3 linked regions of the Homo sapiens genome follow. The protein of the gene in region 1 interacts with the protein of each later gene in a pairwise test. Each region holds a gene or a part of one and is shown on either strand. Other genes may lie near its edges.

Region 1 (7,039 bases):
TTCACCTCCCAGGTTCAAGCAATTCTGCCTCAGCGTCACGAGTAGCTTGGATTACAGGCACGTTCCACCATGCCCAGCTAATGTTTGTATTTTTAGTAGAGACGGGGTTTCACCATCTTGGTCAAGCTGGTCTCGAACTCCTGACCTCAGGTGATCCACCCGCCTCAGCCTCCCAAAGTACTGGGATTACAGGCGTGAGCCACCACACCCAGCCAAAATTTTTTTTTAAAAAAGAATTTTCATTCTTTTTCCTTTCCTGGTCCTGAATAAATATTCAATCAAGTCTTTAGACTGTTGGGAAGAATGAATTGGAGAAACAGGGAGACCAGATGAATGAAACCAGACCCTTCGTCCACACATCTTGATTCCCTCTATGGTGGTGTCTTCCTCCTTCCCCAAATCATTGACTGTCCTGTCTTCCAGGTGGAGGCCACAAGCAGGAAAGAAAAGGCCAAGCAGAGGCCCCTGGCCCTGAACACTGTGGAGATGCTGCGTGTGGCCAGCTCTTCTCTGGGTATGTAGGGACATTTCTCTCAAGTCACCAGAAGGCTTCCTGAGGCAGGTTCAGCCTGGAGCAGCGAGTGCCCAGGGTTGCAGGATGGTGCCCAAGGCTTCAAGGGGATCTGAGCCTCAGGAGGATTTCACTTATCCTTAGGTTGTAAAGGTGGTAAAGTTGGTCACCACCTGAGGGGACCTCCTGATGTTAGAGTCCCTGAGCAGCTATCCCTGGTGAGGGGAGAGGCCCCAGCCAGATGTCACCTTCAGGGAACCAGTGTGAACGTCGCCCCTCAGCCTCATCTCCTCAGTCTTTTCTCCTTAGTAACGAGGAGGGGGTTGGGCTGGAAAGCTGGTGGTCTCTGGCAGCTGTCAGCCCCTAGGCATTGGTGCCCCCCACCCCCGCAGGGAACTATGGGCAGTGTCCTCTCAGTGGACACTGAGTGGTGGCTCCAGCGTCCTCAGAGGGCAGCAATGCTGGGAGTGGTTGCTAGCTAAGCGCCTGCCTCTGCTGGTCAGGGAGTAGCAGGACGAGCCCCCCTGAGTGGCCCCAAAGTGCTGTGAGGACAGAAACACCCAAGGGCTCAAAATGGGGCTGCGTGCTAACTCTGTCGTCAGCCAACCCCGAGGTATGGTTATGGCTCCATGGACAATGCATGGGGAGTGGTGCTCTGAAGGCCATGTGTCATCCCCATGGCCATGAGCCCCATGAGGATGCACCGTGGGGTAGAGTGAGTGGCGTTTCCCATCAGGCCCATCCTGGGTGTAGGATTCAGCCTTACGGGTGCGGGATTCAGCCTCATACAAGACTGTGTGGCATAGGTGCCCACCCGGCCAGCAGCTTTGCACTCCAGCTGTGCCTGCTCAGAGCCACCGTCACCCTCCAGGAGGGGCCGGCCACAATGGGGGAGCCTGAGTGCATAGGCCAGGGCAGGCAGCTGGCCATCCCCACGTACCTGGCCCTCTGAGAACCTCCTGTCTCTCGCAGGCATGGGGCCGCAGCACGCCATGCAGACGGCTGAGCGGCTCTACACGCAAGGCTACATCAGCTACCCACGGACAGAGACCACCCACTACCCTGAGAACTTTGACCTGAAGGGCTCTCTGCGGCAGCAGGCCAACCACCCCTACTGGGCCGACACGGTGAGTGGAGCCGGGCCGGCCTCAGCATGTGTGTGTGTCACTGAGGCCTTGGGACCAGGTCTGGTACGTCAGCCAAACCCAGGCAGGCAGCCGAGCCCAGCCACAGACTCTGCTCTGTCTTCTCTCCCTCAGGTGAAGCGGTTGTTAGCAGAAGGTATCAACCGCCCGCGGAAAGGCCATGACGCCGGCGACCATCCCCCCATCACCCCCATGAAGTCTGCCACAGAGGCCGAATTAGGTACCGCTCTCATCCCATACCCGGTGTGCTTCCAGGGAGGGAAGGGCGAGCTGCGACAGTGAAGGTTGCAGGCCCTGTTGGCAATGTGGGGGCTCCTTCAGCCTCTGCCTGCCCTGGCTGTGGGGATGGGGGGCCACCTGGAAGATGAGCTCCATTGCTATGGGACCAGGACAGGAGTGAAGAGGTAGCAGCAGGTGCTGTTGCAGGGAGGCAAGGGGGCAGACGCCACAGGGGACATGAATGAAACCAGGGTAGAGAGTGGCGGTGTGGGGGAGGGGGCAGCACACCTCCTACCTCCCAGCTGGCCTAAGGTGGTACCAGTGGTCCGAGTGCCAGGAGAAGGCAAATGAGGAAGGGAGAGCAGTGCAGGTAGAGACAGGAGCCACCTGTGGACAGTCTGAGTTTGAAGCAATGGTGTCATGTCACGAGACAATGGAAAGACAGGCCAATGCCTGAAGAGCAGTCCCGCCAGAAGCAGGGACAGGAGGTTGTGCAGGATGGTGGGAGCCGCAGCCAGAAAGAAACCACTGAGGCATGGAGGCTTGTGTTCCCTTCCTCCGCATTTGCTTTTTTTTTTTCTTTTTTTGAGACAGAGTCTTGTTCTGTCACCCAGGCTGGAGTGCAGTGGCCCGATCTCGGCTCACTGCAACCTCTGCCTCCCAGGTTCAAGCAGTTCACCCTGCCTCAGCCCCCCGAGTAGCTGGGATTACAGGCTCCCACCACCACACCCAGCTAATTTCTTTGTATTTTTAGTAGAGACGGGGTTTCACCATGTTGGCCAGGCTGGTCTCAAACTCCTGACCTCAAGTGATCCATCCACCTTAGCCTCCCAGAGTGCTAGGATTACAGGCATGAGCCACCACGCCCGGCCTTCCTGCACATTTTCTTTCCTCCTTCCCCAGGATTTGCAGTGTGTCCTGCACAGCGGCTCTGTAAGCAGGAGCTTGCTGCTCGAGCGAGAGTACTGGGGGCTCCTCACGGCCAGAGCCCCCAGCTGGCTCCCAACTGACTAGCCCTGGCCTGTTGCAGGGGGTGACGCGTGGCGGCTCTATGAGTACATCACCAGACACTTCATCGCCACGGTCAGCCATGACTGCAAGTACCTGCAGAGCACCATCTCCTTCAGAATTGGGCCCGAGCTCTTCACCTGCTCCGGGAAGACCGTCCTCTCACCAGGTCACACCACGGGCCCAGCCTTCCTCCTCTGTGCCTTCATGGGCAGACAAACATTCTACATCGTGTCTGGGGATGGGAGGCCCAGGGTCTGAGGCCCCGGCCACCCAGGCTGGGGACCCTGAGTGGCGGCGCATATCTCTCCAGGCTTCACGGAGGTCATGCCCTGGCAGAGCGTGCCCCTGGAGGAGAGCCTGCCCACTTGCCAGCGGGGTGATGCCTTCCCTGTGGGCGAGGTGAAGATGCTGGAGAAGCAGACGAACCCACCCGACTACCTGACGGAGGCCGAGCTCATCACGCTCATGGAGAAGCATGGCATCGGTGGGTGCGCCTGCCCAGGCCCCAGAGCCGGCTCCGTCTCCAGTACTCAGGCTTCGAGTCTACTCACAAAGCTGCCCCGCCAGCCCTGTGTGCCCAGCCCAGCACCCCTCCATGGGCTGGTATCTGGAAACTGGTGACCCAGTGTGTGGCCAGCCAGGCAGGTCCACAGCGGGCATCCCCTCCTGAGGCCTCCATTCAGGACCTGGCCTTCCCTGTGAAGGCCCAGATGTGCCCTCGTGCACTGTGGGGTGTGCACACACCGACTAACGCCCACAAGGCTGAAGATTGGCCCAGATGCCAGGTGACTCATAGAAATCATATTGGCAGTCCCCTGAGTCCACACAGCCAGCCTGGGCTGTCCTGAAATCAGGTGACAGGGAAATGAGATCTCACAGGAGCTGCTTCCCTGGGAGAGAACAGAAATGCCTGTCCCAGGCACAGGGCTCCCCAAAGGGTGACCAGGAAGTTTCCACGCAAAAATGGGCAGCCCAGGGAGTTTATCAAAGCAAAAGTGTAGTCACCAGTGCACACTCCTCACAGGAGTGGTGGCCTCACAAGTCCCCAGGCCTGGAGCTGTGAGATGTCTCACATGTTGGGGGCCAGCCTCACTGCCGGAGCCTTCTCCCCAGGTGGCACTCGCGCCGCTGGGCACTGCCTGTTCCCTGGGGCACTACCCCTGGCTGACAGGCTCTGGAGACCTGTGGGATGTCACAGCCACTGTGTCCAGGCTCTGCTCCAGCAGTGGTCATATAGGTGGACTCTCAGGGAGTGTCTCTTCCCAGGCTGGGGTCCTGGTGACCATGGCGATCTTGGCAGGAGAGCAGAGCTCTGGGCTTGCTCCTCTCAGGGGTCCAGGGCACCTGCCAGGGTCCTGAAATAGCCCTCAGCCCACTGTGGAGTGTGGGCTCTGCTCCCCCGTGTCCTCTGCCCTCTCGCATTGATGGGACACTGGCTCCTGGCAGCCCTATGCTAGCCAGTGAGCCAGACCCAATCACCAATACAAGTTTGTGACAGTGAAGAGGGCTCTGGTGTTACCTTCTGAACAGGAGAGTGGTCAGGGTGGCCCTGTGACTGAGCCCCCAGGAGTGTGTCAAAAGGGCCTGACCAGAGCCGCCACAGAGGAGCCCACACCACGCGTCATGGCGCCCGGCAGACTCGGGGTGGTAGTGGCACACGCCACCCACAGCCTGCCACACCGGGTGCAGAGCTGGCCTCGTGCCAAGAGCCATGGGCCCTCGGCAGGCTCCTTAGCCCCCAGAGGCCAGTTTCTTCCCATGTGAGATTCTCTCCGAGCTACTTTGGGAAGGTGTGTGTCACCTGTCCATGCTGGTGAGCATGCAGGGAGCCCCAGCCTCCTTTCTGCCCCTCTGACTGGCACCCGCCATAGTCAAAACGCCTCAGCCTCCGCTGCGCCCCTCTGCCAGGAAACTTCCTCTGGGTGGGAGAGTGGAATCCTGGGGACTGGGAGCCTCCCCTGGGGATCGTGACGGGCCTTGCAGAGAGGGAGGAGGTGGGAGACAGGAAGTGGACAGAATTGTCCAGGTTTAGGGGAGGGCAGCTCTGCAGTGAGCTTGTAAGCACCTCCGTGTTCTGGTGGAGTGGGGCTCTGGCTCCGGGAGCAGGTGGGTGCCACAGGACCCAGGCAGGAGAAGCCATAGAAGTCACATTTTCCAGGCGCAGAATAAGCACTGTGACCTTGGAGAGTTCCTTAACCTCCGAGCCTGTTGTCTCTGCCATAAAGCAGGAGTAGGCGCCCTGTACAGGGAGGGCTGCCCTTGTGTTCTCAAGGCAGAACATGAAATGCATGCAGTTGGTGCCCAGCACAGTGCAGGGGGAGCTCAGGGCACAGCCCTCCCTCCTGTGACCGGGAGCAGTGAGAGGGCCTGAGCACCAGGGGCCCCGTGACAGGTGATACAGCACATGGTTCAGTGGGGCATGTCCAAGGCAGGCCAGGAACCCTGGGGCCTTGTACATTGCAGGCACGGATGCCAGCATCCCTGTGCATATCAACAACATCTGCCAGCGCAACTATGTCACGGTGGAGAGCGGGCGCCGGCTCAAGCCCACCAACCTCGGCATCGTCCTGGTGCACGGCTACTATAAGATTGGTGAGTTCCTCAGTCCTGCCCCCAGGGCCCACCGAGGCTCCCTGGCTTCTCCCTGGATGTTGGCTCTGCTGCCCGCTCCAGACAGGCCCCTGCCCTACAGTGATCCCCCAGCCCCACACACACTCCCTCAACACCCGCTGAAGGGGTGCTGCCCCAGGACCCCCAGGACCTGCCCAGAGCAGGAGCTCAGTGTGTTTGAAGGCTGAACAGATGTGTGAGGGAACCAAAAAGGGAGGCGAAGTTGCCTCAGCCCTGTTCCCTGGAGGTTCCCCAGGGGCCAAGGGGAGAGGGAGGAGCACAAAACTGGCCCAAGGGCGGCCTGGAGCTCATGTGTGATGTGGTTCTAGCCACAGGACATCCCTGGCCACTCTGCCTGACATTTCCAGGTGGGAAATCAGGAAAGGTCTGGGGTCATAAGAGCCAGCCTGGTACCATCTGAGGCTGTGGACTGGTGGGTAGGGCAGAGGCCAGGAGGACGGGCCAGAGCGGGAGGGGTGAACAGGGCAGTATCCCTGCCTGGGAAGGGGTGGCATGGCCCTGGGTGCGAGTGCTCAGGGCAATATCTGCCCCCTGCCCACTTGCAGATGCAGAGCTGGTGCTCCCCACCATCCGCAGTGCAGTGGAGAAGCAGCTGAACCTGATCGCCCAGGGCAAGGCCGACTACCGCCAGGTCCTGGGCCACACCCTGGACGTGTTCAAGAGGAAGTTCCACTACTTTGTCGACTCCATTGCTGGTAGAGTCTGCCTCTGGCCTGCCCCTCACCAGAGGGGTGTCTCTCTGTCAGCAAGGCCAGTACCTGGGGACCCAGGTCCCCACGTGGGACCAGCTCCCAGATCTGGGCTTCAGGCCTCCGTAGGCCAGGTCAGTGACACCTCCTGGCTGGGTTGAAAGAGCAGGTGCATTAACACCACACATGGCCAGGAACACGTGCCTCTGACGCACAGGGCTGCTGCCCTGCCGTGCTGCCAGGACAGTAGAAACCACCGCCTATAGGGACCCTTTCACACTCAGACCCTTGACCACGTGTTGCGGAGCCTTTTGCTGGGGACTGGGAGGGAGATGACTCCTGCACTCTGCTTGCCCGCAGGCATGGATGAGTTGATGGAGGTGTCTTTCTCGCCCCTGGCGGCCACAGGCAAGCCCCTCTCACGCTGTGGGAAGTGCCACCGCTTCATGAAGTACATCCAGGTAGGTGCAGGGAACACTAGCTCAGGCAAGCTGCCTCACCCCTGTAGGCCTCAGCTTTATCGTTGATCAGCAGGAATCATGTTCTTTGTCCTGGTTGTCACAAAAGAATGATGGAACATAAAGAGGCCTTGCCAAAAAATACCCAGTGTCCCCACGTCCCCTAGAATACACAGCCATTAGGCCACGCAAACACACATGGTGCATTTTTCCCTAACACCATGCCACTTGCCATCATGGGCATTAATGTACACACAGAGATTTTAGAACTGCCTTTTCTGCACGCGTGGAGCAAGAGCCAGAGACTCATGCTCCTTGCCTGGCAGTGTGTCACAGGTTCTGCATGACAGATTACATACTTTGTATTATGAGAGG
Region 2 (7,039 bases), on another chromosome or scaffold:
CATCTGAAAAATTCCTTTTAAATGTTAGTGACAGTAAGGTTTTTCTCTCTGAATTACAGAGCTTGCTGTGATTGCTTTTTTGTTGTTTTATTGTTGTTTGCTGCCACTGTCTTTAAGTCTAGAGCTAAAATTATTGTTTGATTAAGGTAGCCATATTTGGTTAGATTTTTGCTAGATTCCTACTTTGGGTGAATTTGATCTGTTTTTTTCTTGTAATGATTTTATGTTTGAGGTCTCTCAGATACCTTTGGAACCAGGCAGGGTTTGCTACTTAAGAGAACTGGTGGCATCAAACTGGAGACCTAGGAAAGATATATTTGTACTTTAGGTAAAATAGACTTGATAGTCTACATGTAGTAAAGGTTTTGTTGAATGGTCCAGATAATATCTGTTTCATTTAGCATCAGAATGCAGTAAATCAGAATCTTGCAAATGGTAAAATTGTGCTTAATTTAAAAAAATAATGTTTTGTTTTCTAATGTTGTTTTCCATGTCAATTTAAAATTCTTCTAATATATGGTAATTCAGGAAAGTTTCTTTGCTCTTGTTGATAATGGTCCCAAAAGATATCTTCCATATAGAAAATACACTGACCATTCTCTTTCGTCCCCCCTCCACATAAAAATGCATGTTAAAATTTACAATTATACAGACTTTTAAAAATATAATTTAAGAAGCGAAGAGCATCAGCAAACTATTGTAAGTCGTCCTCTGTGCATAGGGTTGGAAAATTTTTTTAAATCCATACCTATTTTGTCACTATCTTTAAAGCGTTTGATCATGGCTATGAATGGTTTGGAAATTTGCAGACAAGATAAACCTTACTGAACCAAGCTCTAACCCTGGAGACATCGAGCTGCCATTCAGCTTTTTCTTTTGTTCCTTTCATGAACTCTTCTCTGTAACCCACTTCTTGCTGGGAATGGATTTGCAGCTTCCCTTTCAGTCATATTTTCCCTAACGTTGAAATGTTTCCCATTAATAAAACAGGTGTAAGTATTTTTGCTGAACCATTTCAAAGACATTGCAGACATTGGGACTGTTGTACCTAAATATTTGAGCTTACTTCTCAAGAGATAAAAATACTGTTCTGTGAAACCACAATACTATTATCACATTTTACAAAATTAATAATTCCCTGGTGTCTTTAACACTCTGCCTGAATTGTCTGCAAAAATGTCTTTTATAACTGGTTATTCAGCCAGAGACCAATCGAAGACCCCGAGTTAAATGCGTTTGTAACGTGTATTTAAGGCTTAAGGCTTAGCCATTTGCTCACTTTATGATCTAAGGCAGTTTACTTTCATATGTCATGTCAGTTTTATATGGAGTGGACAAAATGGGAATAGACACTACCTATTTTGTGGAGCTGCTGTGAGAATTAAATGAGACAGCCTACGTAAAGCTTATAGTACAGGGCTAGGCATAAAACAGGTGCCCTATGTGGCTCTTTGCAGGGCACTGAGATAGATTTCTTTCAGGCTGAGCTTCATTTTCAGATAACCCTGTGAAGAAGGTATTACCCCCATTTAACTGATGAGAAAGCCAAGGTCAAGTTAGTTGCCCGAGACAGCAAACATTTTTTTAAAGCACTTTATTCATTTAGTCTTCTTAAAAATCCTGCGAGGTAGTTGGTATTATTATCCCTATTATAATAGGGAGAAGTGAGGCACAGAGAGGTGAAGTCCTTTCCTCAAGGTCATCCTGTGAGTAACTGAAGGAGCTGGGAATGGAGCACTCCAGTAGCCTGGTTCAGGAAGGTCTCTGTGCTCTTAACTAACCACTATGAACCATTGGGGTGGTCCAGCCTCAGTCGTTCTGACTCAGAGCTCGCAGCCTTTCTGCCAATCATGCTTGTTCATTATTCTTCTGAACTGGTGACAATCTGTCATTGCCATCATTTTTCTCACTTCACTTATCTTCCCAGAAAATGCTGTGAAGCATGAGGGGCATACTGAATTAAAATGGATTTAAATAAATTTGGGCTTGAGAATTCTGTGATACACCTCAAAGATAATGGGAGTAGTGCAAATTCAGAGTTGGTTATTATTGGAATGTTAGATCTATGTTAACTGAAATAACAGTTGTGGAAATTAAACCGATACAGTGAGTATTGATCCATTTTCTTTGTGTTTGCCTTAAAAAGGGAGGTATGTTTCTACCAGGGGGTATGGTTCTACTATACATGAGTAGAACCCTTAAATGTTAAAAATATGGAGTTGACTGTGCAGAATTAGAATCTTGATTTATTCCTCAGAAAATCCCCACACTACTGGAGACCCAGGCCTGGAGGATGATAGCTTGAGGCCAGGAAAACCAGCCTGGGCAACACAGTGAGACCCTGTCTCTACCAAAAAAATAAAAAATAAAAATTAGCCGCGTGTGGTAGCGCACACCTGTAGTCCCAGCTACTCAGGAGGCTGAGGGGAGAGGATGGCTTCAGGCCAGGAGGTCGAGGCTGCAATGAGCTGTGATCGTACCACTGCACTCTAGCCTGGGCGACAGAGTGACACCCTGTCTCCAGGAAAAAAAAATCTTAAAAGTAAGAAAAAACAAAAAAAACCTGAAAAGACCTTAAGGAGCTTGTAAGCTAGGACCTGTCATAGTATAAACTTAAGTGCCTAGTGCAAGGCTGAACAGCTAGTGAGGTGGTAGACCTGGAGTGGACTAAGCTCCATCAGCTGGTTGTGGTCTGGGTTTGTTTCCATGGGAATATTAGCAAATGCAACCTCCTTTCTAACTAAAGCTGGTCCCCTCTGCTTTCCTGTCCTTTTATCCAGTACAATATATACAAAGTGGATCAGTAGCAATACCCAAAACTGTTTTGCCTTAGCAATTTGCTTACTCTTGCTTTTATTCTGAAATTCTCTTCTTTCTTCCTTCACTTCTCCAGTAGGTGACATTCTGCTCATGCCCCCAGCCATCTCTGAGCCATTGCGTTTGGGTGGTCCTTTTTGACTTTCCCACCATAACCCCCTCCTCCCAGTCAAAATCAAGTCAAAGTCAAAATGCAAGTCAAAATCAATGTCTGTGTGTATTATTTTTTTCCCTACATTACATGGCAATTATTATTTCAAGTTGGGCTTATACCCAGCTAGATTCTGCATCCGAATTTGAGTTTTTTGGATTCAAGGTTACTTCTCAAATGCCTAGTTTTCTAGTTGTTGGCCCAACACCATTGGGCACATTGTGGTTGCTTAATGTCTATTGAATAAAATAATGGATTTAATTATTTTAAAGTGCTGTTTCATCCCTACTGACTAATGCAATAATTACAATTGTTGTATTTGGTTAACTTAGGGTATATATATATATAAGCCTCCTGAGAAACTCAACCATGTTCACATTGAGCCTCTGGTATTTTGTGGAAATTCCATGCAGAACTATCTGGTGGTAGTGATCTGTCATTGGTAACTCAAAACCCATTTTTATTCCATTCATTGTTGCGAGAACTGACAAGTAAAAAATCTTGACCACAATAAGACAGGGCCTGTTTCTATGCCTCTGTAGGAGAATCTCTGCAGAAATCACAGTATTAACAATTTTCAATAGCTGCAGGGTTCTGCTGGAGTCTTAACACTTGAGGGTGGATACAGCTGTGCTGATGAACTCCAATATTGGCATCATTCTTGTATTGCCGGCTGAACACAAATACAGTCTAACAGCAAAATTTTCAGAAATTGAACAAGTGATAATAGAGGCAGACCAGAAAGTTTTGGTGTATGTGATTATTTGTTTGGGCTTGTTTTTACTAAGGTAAATTAGGCCGAGTTTTTTAAAAAGACCCCGTCATCTCAATAAACTTGATAACTTATTCTTAGAAATATTTAAAAATTACTATTTAAATCTAGAACATTGTGATGGTGCTTTTAAGGCATTTTCTAGGGCTCTTAGTGACTTTGAAGTAGAAGAAATATTTTGTATTGATGCTCCAGTGCCCCGTGGAACAAAATATATTTTTTATATGCTTTCCCTGGATAGACATGAAGGATTGTTACATCTTGACATATGTCCCATGTCATGGAAAGAAAGTCAGGCCAGGATCATGGGAGTTTGCTAAATTAAGTAACAATTGTTTCATAACTACCCATTTCCCTTTCTCATGTAACCTTTATCAACATTATGTTCACATGTGGCATATTGCACACGTATTATCAAATTGTGCTTATGTTCTTCCTGCTACTCTCAAAGGGTAGTTGAATATTTATTTAAAAACAAACTTTCTGTGTTTACTTGCACTTAGAGGGTAAAGGTAAAGAAACAGATTTTGACTTCACCCTTAGCATTTAACACTTGTGATTGAAGAGATTAGAACAAATATTGGGAGCTTCTAAAATGTATGGTTTTGGCTCCTCTGTGTCCTGAAATAACGATTTTTCAGATCTGGTTGTTTTTATTCTTTGATATATTTCCTGTGGTCCATTTATAAATGCTTAAAACTTAATTATCAGTTAAGTTTTTAATTGACTTTCATTTGTTCATCTGGTAATGACATCTTTGTCTTTTCATTTTCATTATTTATTCCTCTTGTTTCTTTTTCTTACTGCTTTGCTTTGGCTCTGGCCTCCAGTACTGACTTTTCAGATACGCACTGTTTATTTTGTATTTGCATCCATACTAACTGAGAATGCACAGAGAAGCTTGGCCCATCTGTCTTTCTAGGTGTGGGAATAGGTTTGTTTGTTTGTTTGTTTGTTTTTGAAACAGACTCTTGATCTGTTGTCCAGGCTGGAGTATTCCAAGTGATCCTTCTGCCTTGGCCTCCTGAGTAGCTGGGATTGTAGGTGTGCGCCACCACACCTGGCTAATTTTTAAATTTTTAGTAGAGGTGAGGTCTTCTTAACGTTGCCCAGGATGGCCTTCAGCTCCTAGCCTTAAGCAGTCCTCCTGTCTCGACCTTCCAGAGTGCTGGGATTATAGGCATGAGCCACCTGCACCTGGCATGGGAATAGCTTTATCTTTTATTTTTATTACTTTTTTTTTAGAGATGGGGTCTTGCTCTGTTGCCCAGGCTGGAGTGCAGGGGTGCAATCATGGCTTACTGGAGCCTTGAACTCCTGGGCTCAAGCAGTGCTCCCATCTCAGCCTCCCAAGTAGCTGCGACCACAGGTGTACACCACCATGCCCTTTGAGAATAATTTATTAACCCTCATACCCATGGCCTGGCAGAACACTGAGCACATAGTAGGCTTTCTGTAAACAGTTATCAATTGGTTGAAGTAACTATTCATTAATTGAAAAAATAATTGTACCGTGTATAAAAATTTAACAATTTTTCACAATTTAACAATTATCTTTTTTGGATACCTATATCCAAAAAAGACTTTGAGTTGCTTTTTCAAAACTACTAAAGGAGAGGCTGCCATGATGGTAGTGGAAGAATCATGGACTTTGGAGTGAGACCGTACCTCTTCCCCTGCCACTAAGGGACCCTGCTAAGTATCCCAAGCCACCAGCCCTGGATTAATGTAAATGAGGTTCATTCTGCTGTATACCTAATAGGCTGTTAAAAAGTAGAAATGGACCAGGCATGGTGGTTCATGCCTGTAATCCCATCACTTTGGGAGTCCGAGGTGGGCCGACCACCTGAGGTCAGGAGTTCGAGACCAGCCCAACCAAGATGGAGAAACCCCATCTCTACTAAATATACAAAATTAGTTGAGCATGCTAGCACATGCCTGTAATCCCAGCTACTCGGGAGGCTGGGGCAGGAGAATCGCTTGAACCTGGGAGGCGGAGGTTATGCCAAGCAGAGATCGTGCTAAGCAGAGATTGCACCATTGCACTCCAGCCTGGTCAACAAGAGCAGAACTCCATCTCAAAGAAAAAAAAAAAAAAGCATAAATGAGGTAGCCTTGGTAAAACATTTTAGCACAGCACCTGAGAAATTGAGATTCAGTAGCATCCATCTACCCCAGGTCTGTCCCCCATCATGTAATAAGGTGTTCTTTCTTTTCAGAATTTACAAGGCAGAGGAGATCCATGAACTTTACAAGGCAGGAAACAAGATTTTCACTTTGTACCTTAGAGAGCTGAAATGACTTGCTCAAGGCTCCTCAGGGAGCTTGTGGGAGGATAATTAGGATTTAGAAGTCATGTTCTAAGACTGACTGTTTCTTTTGGCTTTCTAATGGTGTCCTGGTAGTTTTTGTACTGTGATAATCAATAATGCCCAGCTGACCATTGGCCCCTTTACTCAGTGATCCCAGTTGGCTGTGCTTTTTGAGATTCTGAGTTTTATAGCTTGTCTGTTCTCTTAGGGTAAGAGTACCTACCTGTAATAGCATCCTTGGCTCCCCTGCCATCCCTACGCCATTCCTGATATGTGGTCTAGATACCTTATTACCAGCAGCATTCAAATTCTCTCTAAAACAAAAGTCAGTAGGCTTGGTGTGGATGGGTGGGACTGACCATCCTCTTAGGAGTCACTTGGCTTATGACATGTTTTGTCTACTTGAATGCCATGTTTGGCATTTCATTTTATTTTTCCAGCCAAGGAATAAAGTGGACGATGGAGTGGGAATACAGACATAGTGCTAGACTAGAGGTTTAATTTATCAACATCCCAGTAATTTTACTCATTTTTATAGATCTTTTAAAGCAGCGTAAGTGTGACTATAGTCTTAATATAGTTATTACATTTCTCCCTTTTGCTTAAAGGTTAAGTCAAGTTTGATTTTTTTCTCAGGCTCAGACTCGCAAAGCAAATCTGCCTTGCTAGAATGATGTGCCTGGGCTCAACAGCTCACCTCTGGCCCTGAAGGCCTAATAATTGGTTGCCTTCTCATTGATCTGTGTGTGAGCACACTTCAGAACAGTACTCTGCTGTTTGTTAAAATAAAAAACAACAACAAAAAACCTTTGAAGACCTTACCGTCCATTCTAAGATGTCTTTTGTACTAAGGAAAATTGGGGATACTAGATTATAGGTGTTGATTTGGAGTGTGATATACTGTGAATCGGAATAACTTGAATTTAGAATGTACTTAGGCCCCAGTTGCAAAATTATGTGTAAATTATTGTATTGGATAAAATAAAT
Region 3 (7,039 bases), on another chromosome or scaffold:
TGGTCACCAGAAGGACCAACCATGTGATTAAAGGGTTGGAACTTTGGGCCAGCTCAACCTTCAGGGAAGGTAGTGGGGCTAGGTATTAAGTTCAATCACAACCAATGGTTTAATCAATCTTGCCTATGTAATAAAACCCCAGTGAAAACTTTGAACTTCAGGGATAAGTGGAGCTTCTTGGTTGGTGAACATATTGTTCTCTAGGGAGAGTGGTGTACCCTGACTCCATAAGGAGAGGGTATGGAAGCTTTGTGTCCAGAATGCTTTCAGACCTTGTCCTGTGTATATCCTTAAATGAAACTGTAATAATAAGAATAGCACTTTTCTTGAGTTCTACGAGTTGTTTCAGTTAATTATGAAACCTCATAATGTCATAGGAACTCCTGAATTTATAAGTGGTCAGTCAGAAGCATGGGTGGCTTCCTGAGAATTGGGGCTGGTATCTGATCTAAAGTGGGGGCAGTATTGTTGGTGATTGTGCCCTTAAACCTGTGGAGTCCAATGCTAACTCCAAGTAGTTGGTTTCAAATATTTGATATCAGAACAATAGTGTAATTTTCCCTAGTTTTAGCAGCCACACCTAGATTAATATACATAAAGCTTACCTTTGCTGTGTATTCTACATCAACAAGTTAAAATGAAGGATTCAGACCCAACAGTGTATTATGGGTGAAAAAAGCAGTCTGTTTTTGTGGCATGTACCTGTAATTTAGATAATTTTTAAAATTATCTATGTATCTATTTATCTATATCTATCTATGTGTCTATCTATCTAATCTATCTATCCATCTATCCTGTCATCATTTTTTTTCTTATCACAGCTCCCTTAGCCTAGAATTCCTGTTGTGGGTATTGCATTTATATTTAGAAAACTTCAAATTGTGGCCTGATTAAATACTTCTAAGTCCCAAATGTACTCCAAAGCAGATACTTAAACAGTTTATGCCTGTAGAATTTTTTAATCTCAGCCGAAGAGCAGGGTGACTGGTGTGTGTGTGTGTGTGTGTGTGTGTGTGTGTGTGTATCCAAGCAAAATGATGATTGCCTTTGTTCTGACTTGTAGCGGGTAGAATCCTTCCTCAATTATTTTTCTGGGGTGTAGTTGAAATAAAAACTTCATCATTCACTCAGTCCTCTTGTTCCTTCTCCCTTTTTTGATAAATATTATGGGCTACTTTATATAATAGAGGCTACTTCAGATGTCACTTGGCCTAAAATGTTGTTGTGTGGGGATAGTATCAGAGTGAATTTTTCATCTGTCTAGTCTGGACTTTTAGCAGCCACTAATTCTCAACTCTGCCCCCAATTTCAAAAGAGCAACCTTCAATGGGATCTCATCTATAAAATACCACCAGATTTTCTATCAAGGCTTTCACAACCTTGCACCCTTTAATACAAGTCTGCCTTTCTATCTCCATCTCTCATAACATTCTTCCAAGTCAAGGCCAGGACTAGAATGAAATGAAGAAAGAAGCTCTTGTTCTCAAGTGCCTCACACTATTCCAGGCCTTGCCCCACTTTGCCTGCAGTCAAGCCCCACTGGAAAATCTGTTGTTTTCCCAACTGTATTGTGTGCTTTACTACTTTTATGCCTTTCCCACATGCTGTCCCTTCAATCTTCAATGTTCTTACCCTTTTTCTGTCTATGGGAAACATCATTTGGGCTCAGTTCAAATGCCAGGGCCTTTTTGAAGTCTGATACCTCCTCGCCCTTATCCCTTGCCCCTTGGTAGGAAGTAATTCCTCCATTCTTTGTACTTACACAATATTTTATTTGCCACTTGGCCACTTGTTTCTTTTTTTTTTTTTTTTTGAGACGGAGTCTCACTTCGTCACCCAGGCTGGAGTGCAGTGGCACGATCTCAGCTCACTGCAACTTCTGTCTCCCAAGTTCAAGCGATCCTCCTGCCTCAGCCCCGCTAGTAGCTGGGATTACAGGCACACACCACTGATTTTTGCACCATTAATTTATGCCCGGCTAATTTTTGTATTTTTAGTGGAGACAGGGTTTTGCCATGTTGGCCAGGCTGCTCTTGAACTCCTGACCTCAGGTGATCCACCCGCCTCGGCCACCCAAAGTGCTGGGATTACAGGCGTGAGCCACTGCGCCCATCCCACTTGTTTCTTTATACCATGCATCAGAGTCTTTTTATTTTTTTATTTTTATTTTTTAATGAATAACATAGAACTAGTGTTGAGGGACAGGAAGCATAGAGAAAGAAGCTTGGACTCTGGAAGTGTGATTCAAACCCCAGTCTGTCTGACTGCAAAGCCTGAATGTTTACTACTTAAAATAGTAATTTGTGTTAATATTAAGATTTATTGGATTTATTGGGTGATTTCTATGTGCCAGGGTACTCTACTAAGGGCTCTAAATGTATTCACTTAGTTAATCCTCAAAACAAACTTATGAGGTAGGTGCTGCTATTGTTTCCATTCTACATATGAGGAAGCTGAGGCACACATTGGTTAAGTAGCTTAGCCAACCTCACTGAGTTGGTTAGCAGAGGAGGTGACATTCCCACCTTTGTGGTTTGAATCTGGAGCTGATGTGCATTACTTCTATGCTATGTCTATATTCCTCCAGTGCTAGTTATCAATAAAAGCATCCATGATCATTGTAACTGTTTTTACAATCAGATCTTCTGTTCCTCAAAGCTTGTAGCAAAGTATTTATCATAAAGAAATTAAACCTGAATATTGTTAGACCTCCTGTCCCTTATCCTTTTTTCCCTGTTTATCAGCCTATTCCACCCTTTCCTTCCTTCCCAACCCAATGCCCATCACAGTACTTATTTTTACTACTCTTCTACCTCATCCTCTAGTGCCTGGCTCCACTGTCCTGGAGAAACCCCAACTCTGGATAAATCTCAAGTATCTACGACTTTCTATACCTTTGTTGTTTAGTGCACCTGGGAAAATTAATCATATTGTTCTAACTGTCGACACTGTAAATGTGTCTTTCTCAATATCAGCACAGTCCCCTGAACTGAAAGCAGGTAACCTTTGATATCTTTATAATCTGGATATTTCACAAGGGTGCACCTTCACACAATGATCCTCTGAATTGAAACTAGGTTTATCTATTATCTTAAGTATTTAATGTACCTCTGGACCTCCTAGATAAGTCAGAGTTTGGCTTCTGCCTAAAGCTTTACTTTTTAATCTGGAGCAGAAGCCAAACAGTTGTCAGACCTCTAGCAATCATTAGGACACGTGTTGAGAATTTCTGGCTTTTCTTTCCTGGGAAACATGAGTTCTGCTACTGCAGATGTAGGTGCTCACTGATGCTCACTGATGGACACAAGTCAGGAATTCTTACTCACTGAAGAGCTGTTTTGTGCCTGAGCACATCTAGGATTGTTCCATTTTCATATAACAAGGAATTCAACTAAAACTAACTTAATAAGGAAATTAATTATCCAATGATTGTAAGTACTGACGTAGGGCAGCCTTGATGGTTGTTTAATTCAGCGAAGGACTCAGCTTTTTTCCGTCTCTTTCTTCTGCCATTCACAATATCAACTTCCGTCCTAAGGCTGATAGCTTGATGGCTACAACAATTCCAGGAGGTAAGCAACTTCCTGAGGAAGAAGAAAAGACAATCTTTTCTGATGACTTTGTCTTATGAATGAGGACACTTTCCTCAGAAGTCCATCTGTAACCTTCCCCTAATGTCACATTGAGTGGAATTTGATCAATGCCTCTTCCTAAACAAGAGAGTACCAAGGGGATAGATTATCCGTAGACCAAAGAGACTCACTCTTGGAAATGGAATTAGCCTCTCTGTGACATGTGACTAAAAGGAGGAGAAAGTCAGTAACCTGCAGTGGCAACTATGCAAAAATGGCATCCTTTTAGTAAAGGGTTATGGTAAGCAACACAGAATATACAAAGCACTGAGGCTACAGCACAAAGAGCACAGTGACACTGACTTAGCAATTATGACCTTTAAAAACCATGTAGTTCTCATCTATTCTTTCTTGCTTTCTCCAGCCCACTCCATAATAGGAATAGATCAGAAATTTTAAAAGAACTAGAAAGATCTGATATACACATGTTGTGCAGGATATCAAATAGTTTTCTCAGTATACACAATAATCCTGTAAAGTAGTTAATGCCAGCTCCCTTTTAAGGATGAAGAAACTGGGTTATAAAGACGTTAAGTACCTTTGCTAAAGTTACACAAATAGTGACAAAGTCTGTATTCAGACTTTGGACTGTCTGGCTCTGAAATCTGGGTACTCCCAACTCTTCTGTACAAACTCCCTTTAGAATGTACTCCCAGGGCTCAGAAACTAGTTACTCTAGTCTAAGCAAGCACTTAACAATCATTAGGCAGTTAATGTAAACTATAGATTCTAATAGTATCATGCACTGCCTCTTGATGGTGGTGGTGGTGGTAGTGACATAGACAACTTTTCTCTCCTAGCATTAAGTTACAGTTCCTCAGACTTCATTACCAATAATATATATATTTTTCAATTTTTAAAGATTTTTTGTAGAAACAAGGTATAACTGCATTGCCCAGGCCAGTCTTGAATTCCTGCACTCAAGTGACCCTCCCACCTTGGCCTCCCAAAGTGCTGGAATCACAGGCATGAGCCATTGTGCATGGCCATTACCAGGAATTTTGATTCAGGAGGTCAAAAGTCTAATTTGCATTGCACATTACAAATTTTTGGGCTGAGATGTCAGGTTCAGGGAGCCCCATAAATTTCCTGTACCTGGGAGTGAAAAGAGCTAATATTTATGGAGCAGCTGGGTTTTCCAGGGCAACCTAATTCCCAGATGTGATGTTCAGCAGAAAAGAAGCAGACAAAAGCAATGTGCACTGCTTTTTTTTTTTTTTTTTTTTTTTTTTAAATAGAGAGGGGGTCTTGCTATGTTGCCTAGGCTGCTCTTGAGCTCCTGGACTTAAGCGATCCTCCCACCTTGGACTCCCAAAGTGCTGAGATTAAAGGTGTGAGCCACCACACCCAGCCCATTTTAAATTTTTTATTTTTTATTTTTCACTGCTCTTTAGCTTCCCTGTTAAAACCCATAGCCAGACTTCCAGTTTCAGTTCCAACATGTAAGAACTTGTAAGTCATTGCTCCTGTACTTACAACCAGAAAAAAATCTGAACAAACAGAATCAACAACATTTCTTAGATTCTTCAAAGAACTGAGGCATAGGACAGTTGACTACCCCAAATTCTGAAGGCAAATCCAGAGAGTCACAGCCTATTTCTTCTTTCATAGAACAGAAACTGCTAGAGACATAAATAGGTAAGAGCACTTAAATGTAATTTTGATGAATTGCTGGAGACTGAGTGTGGAATAATATGAGAGTGAGAAACCCCTGAGGATCTGCAGTCAGGGAGGTCCCCACACTTTTGTGGGCATTACTTCCAAGAAACCCACCATATTCTTGCAGTGAAGGGCCTCATGGCCCCTGCAGTGGGAAGGGAACTGTACTTTTGTGAAATACACCCAGAGCCTTCTTCATTTTTTAAAAAAAAAGCCTATTCTGTGGTGGAAAAGACTTTATCAGAGCCTTATCTCAGCTGAGGGAAAGGCGTTTCTCCTATTTCAGCCCCCTTTAGGTTTCTAGTCTCATGTAAGGGAGAGAAAGGCGCTAAAATAAAACTCTTATGAAAATCAAAGCCCAGGGACACAGGCCCACAAAAGACTGAAATTTAATCATAATATTATAGAACACTTCCTCTCCTCTGCACTTCACCACCATGCTAACAAGGCTTTATTATAATAATAGTGGATAACAGTGAATAACAGTTAAAAGAGCTGCAAAATGTAAACTCTCCCTGAGAAGAATATTTAGGGAAATGCTAGAAATCAAAAATACTGTAACAGAGCCCAGGCACAGTGGCTCACGCCTGTAATCCCAACACTTTGGGAGGCTGAGGTGGGTAGATCACCTGAGGTCAGGAGTTCAAGATCAGCCTGGCCAACATGGAGAAACCCCATCTCTACTAAAAGTACAAAAATTAGCTGGGCGTGGTGGCGGGTGCCTGTAATCCCAGCTACTCAGGAGGCTGAGGCAGGAGAATCGCTTGAACCCGGGAGGTGGAGGTTGCAGTGAGCCGAAATTGTGCCACTGCACTCCAGCAAATGAAGAATGCCTTTGATGGGATTATCAGTAGACTGGACACAGTTGAGGAAAGACTCAGCAAGCTTGAGTAGCAGTCCCCAATCTTTTTTGGCACCAGGGGCAGATTTCGTGGAAGACAATTTTTCCATAGACTGGGGGGCGAATGGCATGGTTTCAGGACAATTGAAGTGCATTACATGTATTATGTACTTTATTTCTATTATTATTACATTGTAATAGATAATGAAATAATTATACAATTCACCATAATGTAGAATCACTGGGAGCCCGGAGATTGTTTTTGTAAAGCTAGATGGTCCCATCTTGGGGTGATGGGAGGCAGTGACAGATCATCAGGCATTAGATTCTCATAAGGAGCATGCAACCTAGATCCTTCACATGTGCAGTTCACAATACGGTTTGTGCTCTTATGAGAATCTAATGCCACTGCTGATCTTCCAGAAGGCGGAGCTCAGGCGGCAATGAAAGTGATGGGGAGTGGCTGTATATACAGATGAAGATTTACTGGCTAGCCCGCCACTCACCTCCTGCTGTGTGACCCAGTTCCTAACAGGCCATGGACGGGTCCAGGTCCGTGGCCTAGGGGCTGGGGACTCCTGAGCTTGAAGATAGGTCAATAGTGTAAACTAAAAAGTATGTAAGACATGTCTCAATTGATTTAGAAGTTTATTTTGCCAAGGTGAAGACATTCCCAGAAGAAAAGAGCATGGAATCACAGAAACAGTCTGTGGTCTGTGCCTTTATCCAAAGATAATTTTGAGGGCTTCAATATTTAAATGGAAACAGCAGGCTAGAGGGGAAGAGGGAGGGTACAGTAATCCACATGATGCAAGGGAAAAGGAGCAGAAACAGGAATAGTCAATTCTGTATTCCTCTGGCTCACAGTAAATCAGCACTTTACATAAGGTAAGGAAAATGTGTAATA

What was found.
Region 2: the proteins of TOP3B (region 1) and SPRED2 interact in binary tests that used the Homo sapiens proteins (3 or more experiments, as listed by UniProt).
Region 3: the proteins of TOP3B (region 1) and GPRASP3 interact in binary tests that used the Homo sapiens proteins (3 or more experiments, as listed by UniProt).

The regions. Positions count from the first base shown.
Region 1 is NC_000022.11:21,958,760-21,965,798, reverse strand, and holds part of TOP3B (DNA topoisomerase 3-beta-1), read left to right. Parts: intron 1-423; coding exon 424-514; intron 515-1,483; coding exon 1,484-1,638; intron 1,639-1,770; coding exon 1,771-1,876; intron 1,877-2,905; coding exon 2,906-3,052; intron 3,053-3,196; coding exon 3,197-3,370; intron 3,371-5,349; coding exon 5,350-5,478; intron 5,479-6,062; coding exon 6,063-6,212; intron 6,213-6,566; coding exon 6,567-6,667; intron 6,668-7,039. UniProt on the Homo sapiens protein: Releases the supercoiling and torsional tension of DNA introduced during the DNA replication and transcription by transiently cleaving and rejoining one strand of the DNA duplex.
Region 2 is NC_000002.12:65,422,572-65,429,610, reverse strand, and holds part of SPRED2 (sprouty-related, EVH1 domain-containing protein 2), read left to right. Parts: intron 1-7,039. UniProt on the Homo sapiens protein: Negatively regulates Ras signaling pathways and downstream activation of MAP kinases. Recruits and translocates NF1 to the cell membrane, thereby enabling NF1-dependent hydrolysis of active GTP-bound Ras to inactive GDP-bound Ras.
Region 3 is NC_000023.11:102,723,732-102,730,770, forward strand, and holds part of GPRASP3 (G protein-coupled receptor associated sorting protein 3), read left to right. Parts: exon of another isoform or gene 1-1,130; intron 1,131-7,039. UniProt on the Homo sapiens protein: Survival and differentiation promoting protein that plays a role in the regulation of neurosynaptogenesis. Induces phosphatase PP2A activity which results in APP dephosphorylation and inhibits BACE1-mediated processing of APP.